2 linked regions of the Homo sapiens genome follow. The protein of the gene in region 2 purifies or fractionates together with the protein of the main gene of each other region. This does not show direct contact. Each region holds a gene or a part of one and is shown on either strand. Other genes may lie near its edges. The genes, in order: PDS5B and CASP2.

Region 1 (3,820 bases), on a different chromosome or scaffold from region 2:
ATCGCCGTTCCCTTTTAGCACTTCGCCGCCGTACCTTAAAAGGAAAGTCACCAGATGCTTAATTAAAATGGGTATATGTGCATAAGATATGCAGTAATCATTTTTAACTAATCTTTATTCTCATTTGTTCCTGATTTTCTTTGCTTTCCTTTCCCTGAAACTTTTTATCCTTACTTTCTGCCCTGGCATCACATATTTAGACCTCTATAACATTTGATCCCTTACAGGCTCACAGACTTCCCCAGAACAGTGAAAGAAAAAAATTATTTTACTTTTCTATCTAATAATTTTAAAGAGAAATGAACAGAAGTCAATGTCTACAGCAAGAAAAATAACTCAAACAGATTAATCATCTTTCTACTTATGTTTCCTGTGGTAAATGAAAACATTTCACATTTATGAACTTACATTATCTTTCTGGGAAAGCAGTTACTGAGTTTGGATCTTAACAATTATCAATACAGTAAAATAACCTAAAATTCAAACATATTATCATTTGCTGACAAGCACTAATGAAAGCATAAAACTTTAGTTCAAAAAATGTCAATATTAACAATAGGAATATAAAAGAGGGTTTTAATTTACATGTAGTTTTTCTCTGATGAAGACATCAATCGTTACTGACTCTTCAGACTTACTTTGATGTCCTCCCCAAAACCCTTTAAGAAACAAGCCAAACTAATTTGAGGTCACAATTATGCATATTTTCCTGTGTACTTAACTCGCTTATTCACAAATATGAATCCTGGTACAGATAGGAGTTCTGATTCCATTAAACAGGACAGAACAGCAGAGACCAATTCTGAGACTTGATTATAGAGCTTGGGTTTCTCAAACAAAGATAGGAGAAGAGCTTCTACTTAAATGTATTATGTTTTTTCCTAAGAGAAATATCTGAGTTGTATTAACTGGTAAAGTTATTTATTTATTACTTTAAAAGTCAAGAAGGGCCGGGTGCAGTGGCTGATGCCTGTAATCCCACCACTTTGGAGGCCAAAGCAGGCAGATCACTTGAGGTCAAGAGTTCGAGACCAGCCTGACCAACATGGTAAAACCCTGTCTGCACTAAAAATACAAAAACTAGTCGGGCACAGTGGCATTGGCCTGTAATCTCAGCTACTTGGGAAGCTGAGGCAGGAGAATTGCTTGAATCTGGGAGGCAGAGGTTGCACTGAGCCCAGATCGTGCGCCACTATACTCCAGCCTGGGTGACAGAGTGAGACTCTGTCTCAAAAACAAAAAAGTCAGGAAGTAACACATACCTACTTTTGCAAAATAAGTATGTATTACCAATTTTATGAATTCTCATTCAGCTCAAACTTCAATTCCAAAGGCTGATTTTATTCTGTGTAACTAACTTCTAATTTCTATTATGAAACCCAAATAGAAATACCAAACGGAGAGTTGTAAAATATAAACAACAGTATACTTAATGGGTATCAGTGCCCTAAAATCAAGGTACAACTTACATGCTTAAAGTGTCAATATTAGAATGCTGTACATTCAGTTCAGACTTGACATTTACATTCTCATTAAGCTACACCTATTTGCTTAGTTTCGGGTTTCCATAAAAGATGTTCTCCATTATCCAACCTGGTAGATAAAATGATGCTATGAACTAATGAAGTAAAACATATAAATACTAAACAAGTACTAAATGATCTAACCAAACATTTACTAACTCTTTTTATATCCCACACCACTCACAGAAACTTTGAACACATACATTTACTGTAGAAACTTCCTCCTCCTCTGTTTCTTCCTGTGGAATATCATCGACAGGAGAGCTACCCTGAAACACATCTACTTCTTCACTTGAATCATTTTCCTTAGTAGCTGCTTGTTTGGAGCGTCCTACACGGCTAGAGTAAAACACATGTAAAACACAATGAACGTTCCAATCTTTCAGTAGATTACCTCGTTAGAAGAAATGTTTCACGTATTTCATCGTCATATCATCTTTACCCTCAGTTACTTTATGAGACAAGAACATTTCTTTAATATTCTGAATCCTAAACCAGCATTTAATCATAGAATGTTACATATTATCTACCAAGTAACAACAAAAAAATGTGACTGAGAACATACCATAACCTAAAGTCTGCTCTTCCTTTCATCTTTCCTAACACAGTAAAAGGCATCTATGTCTACTGAGCTGCTCAAAGCAGAAAGGAATTCTGCTTTGAATATAGTGTACCTGTCTTTGTCTGGCCTTATAGATTCTTATGGAGATCTCAAATCCATTCACTTCTCTCCACATCTCCATTGCTACCACCTAATTCAAACCATTCCCATCTCTTGCCTCTTCTCTTTACAAAGTTATCTTTTAAAAGTACAAGAACAGATGATGTTACTGCTCCCTACTGAGCTGAGAATAATTTTGTAAACCTCCTTAACAAAGTATACAAGGAACAGTAGATGGTCCTTGCCTACCTGTCCACTCTCATCTCTTTCTGCTCCCCAACTCCCCACAACTACAATCCAACAAACCCTTGCCTTCCTTTAGCTTTCTGATTTTGCCAAGTTATTTTTCACTTCAGAAACTTCAAATATAGTGTTCATGCCACCTGTTCTCTGCCTGTCTAGCCCCTACTATTCTCAAGATATCAACTCATTGTTACTTTTAAAGAAAAAACTTCCTCACTCCATTAGATGGTGGAAAACAAGAACCACGAGCCCATGAAAACAAGTACCACGTCTGTTTTGTGTCCCTAGCACCTAGTACTCTCTGAAACACAGGAGGCATCAAAAAATATGTAATAGAACCATCTAATCAAATGGATCCCTCTTGATAAATCTTTATTTTTTAAAATTAGAAACATAACATCACTTCTATAAGCAATCCAAAATATGTATTTTTTTAACTCACGCTCGAACCAAACAATTTTTTTACTTGGTTTGGTTTTTCGAGATTAATGAAACTATAGAAATAACATGAAACATAATGACAATCTTTTTCAATTTCACTGAGGTCAGAACAAGAAAAAGAAACAAATCCTAACATATGTTAGTATACTAGCTCTAGAAAGAGCTTCCCAGTGAAAGGAAGATAGGCTTCCAAGACAGACTACAGAATCTTCTTCCATATCAATTTTTTTTTTTTTTTAAGAAATACTTGTTTGGTTTAGAACATTCATAGGACTTGTGTAATTTTAGGAGAGCACAATAATCATTTAAACCCTGAATTTTATGATGTCCAAATATAAACAAACTAAAATTATGAGGTTTGTTATTTCCTTGTTACATCATTCATGTGTATTTTATTAAATAAAGGATTCCTTAAGAATCCTTTGTTTAGAAATAGTGATTTGGTTGAATCCAAACACATTTATAAAGCTGCCACAAAAATGTACTTACCTTTACTTTTAACCTGATAGAAAAATTACATGGAAGATGGCATGAAGTACTGGCTAGACACCCAGGCAACTTTTCCTCTTCCTGTGGAATACACAGGAATAGGAAAATCTCTAAGATAATTGAGTATTTAATGACAGTACATTGGCAACTCTGAAAAGTCGAGCCATGATGTAATTATGTATGGGTGGGATTACTCTCAGAAAAAGTGTTAAATTTCTGACTAATAGAAGACATGCTACTCTATTTCCACTCACATAACTAAGGAGAAAAAACACTGTCAGATCTGCAAATTACAGCAGTGATACTCTGGTGACACTAAAATTTGAGGTACAGATTCTTACTGTACCTCTCTTATAAATGTGTTTGTGTGAACATCTAAAACTATATACATGTTGATGTAGATAAATGAACTGGGTTAGAAAACAAACAAAATCAAGATATCAAACACTTGAGACCAACATGT
Region 2 (3,820 bases):
CTGCAGTTCCAGCTACTCAGGAAGCTGAGGCAGGAGAATCGCTTGAACCTGGTAGGCAGAGGTTGCAGTGAGCCGAGATCGTGCCATTGCACTCCAGCCTGGGTGACAGAGCTAAACTCTGTCTTTAAAAAAAAAAAAAAAAGTGAGACACCAACTGTGGACTATTATTACTTTATGAAACCACAACCTGAGATGTCAACACTAAAATGGCTGGCCGGCCCTAATTCTTTCTTACTAGAATGCAAGGTGAGAGGCAGAACAGAGTGAGTAAAAATGTAAGTAGAATAAACCAACTTTTAAGACATATCCCAGCAGGCACAGGAACAAACGATGTCTCTGGTCCCAAAGTGTTGTTCAGTCCTCTAATTTACATGTCAATTTTTCCCACCTCAGGTACCTGTGCAGTCTGGTCACATAGAACATGGACGTCATAGCCCAAAAGCTTGAAGAGGGTGACTAGAGTACTGTGGTCCACATCCCCTCCAGAGCGAAATTCCAGTTCTTTCTCTCCAGTGAAGTGCACATTGCTCAACACCAGTGCTAGGCCACGAGGCCGAGACTGCAACCTATATGCCTGTGGAGGAGAGGCCAGTTAGACCATGAGCGTCTTGATAACAGATGATTCCTCGGCTAGATTAGACATTTCAAGAAAACAAAGACATCGTATTTTTCTTCTTAACCTCCAGCAGGTAAAAATAGACAAATGCTCACAGAAGGCATTTAACCAGTAACAACTTTCTGACTAATAAGGCAGAAAGGAAATGTACATGCAAACTAAGTTCAGGTTCCCAGGAAGGGTGTCTAATTTCCCAACTCTCTTCCTCTTGTCATTATGCAAAAACTCACCAGCTGGAAGTGTGTTTGATAAAATTCAGGAGTGCAAGGCTTCACCTGAAGGCAGACAGGACCATCTTTATTGTCTAGGGAGTGTTCCACAGTATCTGTGGTATAGACAGAAAACCAAAAAACTAGTATATAACTTAACCATCAATCTTAATATGTCATTGTAACTTCAGACATCTCTTGCAACTGGGTTGTGATAAATATTGGTCTCACTCACTACCCAAACCTGTAAGCTTCATGAGGGCAGAGACTCTTAGTTTTAGCTCACTAAAGGATTCTCTGCACATAGCCTGCATGAAGCATATGCTCAACTGGCTGAATGACCGAATGGGCTAGCTGATAAAAGCCTCGTTCCAATCACTAGGATGCTCCATCAGCAGGCTGGTGGCCCCAAATGTAGTCTTTTCTTATTCAGCTTTTTAGAGGCCAATTGAGCATGAACTTCCTGCCCATACATGCTACTCAAAGGCCCAATTATCACAAAAACTGTTATCTGGGGTGGAAGGGAAATGGACCAACTATTAATAACACCTTGCCTGGGCCGGGCGCAGTGACTCATGCCTGTAATCCCAACACTTTGGGAGGCCGAGGCAGGCAGATCACGAGGTCAGGAGATGGTGAAACCCCATCTCTTACTAAAAACACAAAAAATTAGCTGGGTATGGTGGCACGCACCTGTAATCCTAGCTACTCAGGAGGCTGAGGCAGGAGAATCACTTGAACCCAGGAGGCAGAGTTTGCAGTGAGCCGAGACTGCACCATTGCACTACAGCCTGGACGACAGAGCAAGACTCCATCACAAGAAAAAAAAAAAACAAAAAACCACAAACTCCTGCATAAACTGTCCTACTAGCCCTTAACAAATTTACTGACAACTGTTCCCAATATAAACTATGTCTCAGCTGGGCATGGTGGCTTACGCCTATAATCCCAGCACTTTGGGAGGCCAAGGCGGAAGGATCATTTGAGGCCAGAAGTTTGACACCAGCCTGGGTAACAAAGTGAGACTCCTTCTCTACAAAAAATTTAAAAATGAGCTAGGTGTGGTGGCATGCACCTGTAATCCCAGGTACTTGGGAGGCTGAGGCAGGAGGAGCCCTTCAACCCAGGAGTTCAACGCTGCAGTGAGCTATGGTGGTGTCACTGCATTCCAGCCTGGGTGACAGAACAAGACCCTATTTCTGAAAAAAAACACAACAAAAAAAAAAAAAAACAAAAAAAAGGGCTCATGTTAGGACAAAGCCAGATACCAGACAAGAAAGGGGAAGTCAATCTGGGACACCCCCCTCCTTTTTATTTTATTTTATTTTATTTTTTGAGACTGAGTCTCACTCTGTTGGCAAGGCTGGAGTGCGGTGGCACCGTGTTGGCTCACTGCAACCTCCGTCTCCTGGGTTCTAGCAATTCTCCTGCCCCAGCTTCCCGAGTAGCTGGGATTACAGGCACCCACCACCATGCCCAGCTAGTTTTTATATTTTTAGTAGAGACGGGGTTTCACCATGTTGGCCAGGCTGGTCTCGAACTCCTGACCTCAGGTGATCCACCCGCCTTGGCCCCGCAAAGTGCTGGGATTATAGGCGTAAGCCGTGGCACCTGGCCTGGGACCCCTTTTAGTCCATCAATTCTCACCTGTCGACAGGCGGAGCTTCTTGTAAAGGGGACAGGACTCACACACCGGAAAAGGGAGACTCAAGTCGTAGTCACAGCTCAACTGTAAGAAATCAAAACTCATGATGACAGACCTTAGGGAAGTGGTCCGGTCCAAATACAACAAAATCTAGTCTCCCTCACTCTGACTTACAAATTCCTTTCCAGTCAAACTAACCCTTCCCAACACCCCATATTACTAAAGCTTCATACCGGTGGGAGTACATGCTGAAGCCCAGAAAGGGTGGTGAGCAACATATCCTCCAGGTGGCCTTGCTTGGTCTCCCTCAGTGCTTCACAGAAGGCATCAAAAGCTTGGGGACCCCTCTTAGGCAGCAAGTTGAGGAGTTCCACATTCTGGCTGAAACTGCCCACTTTGGCCTAAGACACAAGAATAAAACATGAAATCATATTTACTTCTCTAGCTATAATTCTATTTCTCCACATGAGCTTCCTAGTAGTGTCCTCATCCAAGAATTCTTTTTACAGGAAAAGTGTATGTATGGGTGAAGTCCTTTCTGTTATTCTTGAGTTATATATCATTTCTCTCAAATGCTCTACGGTAGAAGGGCATTTCCATTTCTTTAGAAAGGTACAACATCCAGCTGGGTGTGGTGGCTCACACCTGTAATCCCAGCACTTTGGGAGGCCGAGGCAGGTGGATCATGAGGTCAGGAGATCGACACCCTCCTGGCTAACACAGTGAAACCCTGTCTCTACTAAAAATCCAAAAAATTAGCCAGGCATGGTGGCACCTGCCTGTAGTCCCAGCTACTTGGGAGGCTGAGGCAGGAGAATCACTTGAACCTGGGAGGCAGAGGCTGCAGTGAGCCAAGATCGCGCCATTGTACTCCAGCCTGGGAGACAGAGACTCTGTCTCAAAAAAAAAAAAAAAAAAAAGGAAGAAAGATACGACACCCTTTCCATATTTTGTCATGCTCTATTCCCACCCCATGATCAATTTATCTTCTCTCTTTTGCCTCCAGATACCTGGATGAGCTCCCTCATTTCCAAGGTGATGATGTCCTTCTCCAGAAGATGTTCTAACAATTCGCTCAACAACAGCTGTTTGGCTAGCACCACTCGGTTCTTTTTTAGAGTTTCCTGATGATGAGGATGCATGCCACACACTCCCAATATCCTACAGATAAACGGTAGAAGGAAAGGCTGTCAAGTCACAATTTGACACAGAAGAGTGGAGTGGAAGAGGCATGAATAGGAAGAACAAAAAGAATAAGACTTACAATAACCAAGATTATGCATATTTCTTAAATCTGGTTAAAGCAAAGATGTACTAAGCAGGAACACATTGATCATAAGAAAATAATGT

The links.
Region 1: the proteins of CASP2 (region 2) and PDS5B purify together in Homo sapiens (affinity purification with mass spectrometry, with the first as the bait; one large-scale study listed by BioGRID). This does not show direct contact.

What each region holds. Positions count from the first base shown.
Region 1 is NC_000013.11:32,771,231-32,775,050, reverse strand, and holds part of PDS5B (sister chromatid cohesion protein PDS5 homolog B), read right to left. Parts: intron 1,863-3,820; coding exon 1,727-1,862; intron 35-1,726; coding exon 1-34. UniProt on the Homo sapiens protein: Regulator of sister chromatid cohesion in mitosis which may stabilize cohesin complex association with chromatin. May couple sister chromatid cohesion during mitosis to DNA replication.
Region 2 is NC_000007.14:143,291,351-143,295,170, reverse strand, and holds part of CASP2 (caspase-2 isoform 1 preproprotein), read right to left. Parts: intron 3,632-3,820; coding exon 3,481-3,631; intron 2,872-3,480; coding exon 2,704-2,871; intron 2,555-2,703; coding exon 2,473-2,554; intron 942-2,472; coding exon 847-941; intron 575-846; coding exon 398-574; intron 1-397. UniProt on the Homo sapiens protein: Is a regulator of the cascade of caspases responsible for apoptosis execution. Might function by either activating some proteins required for cell death or inactivating proteins necessary for cell survival.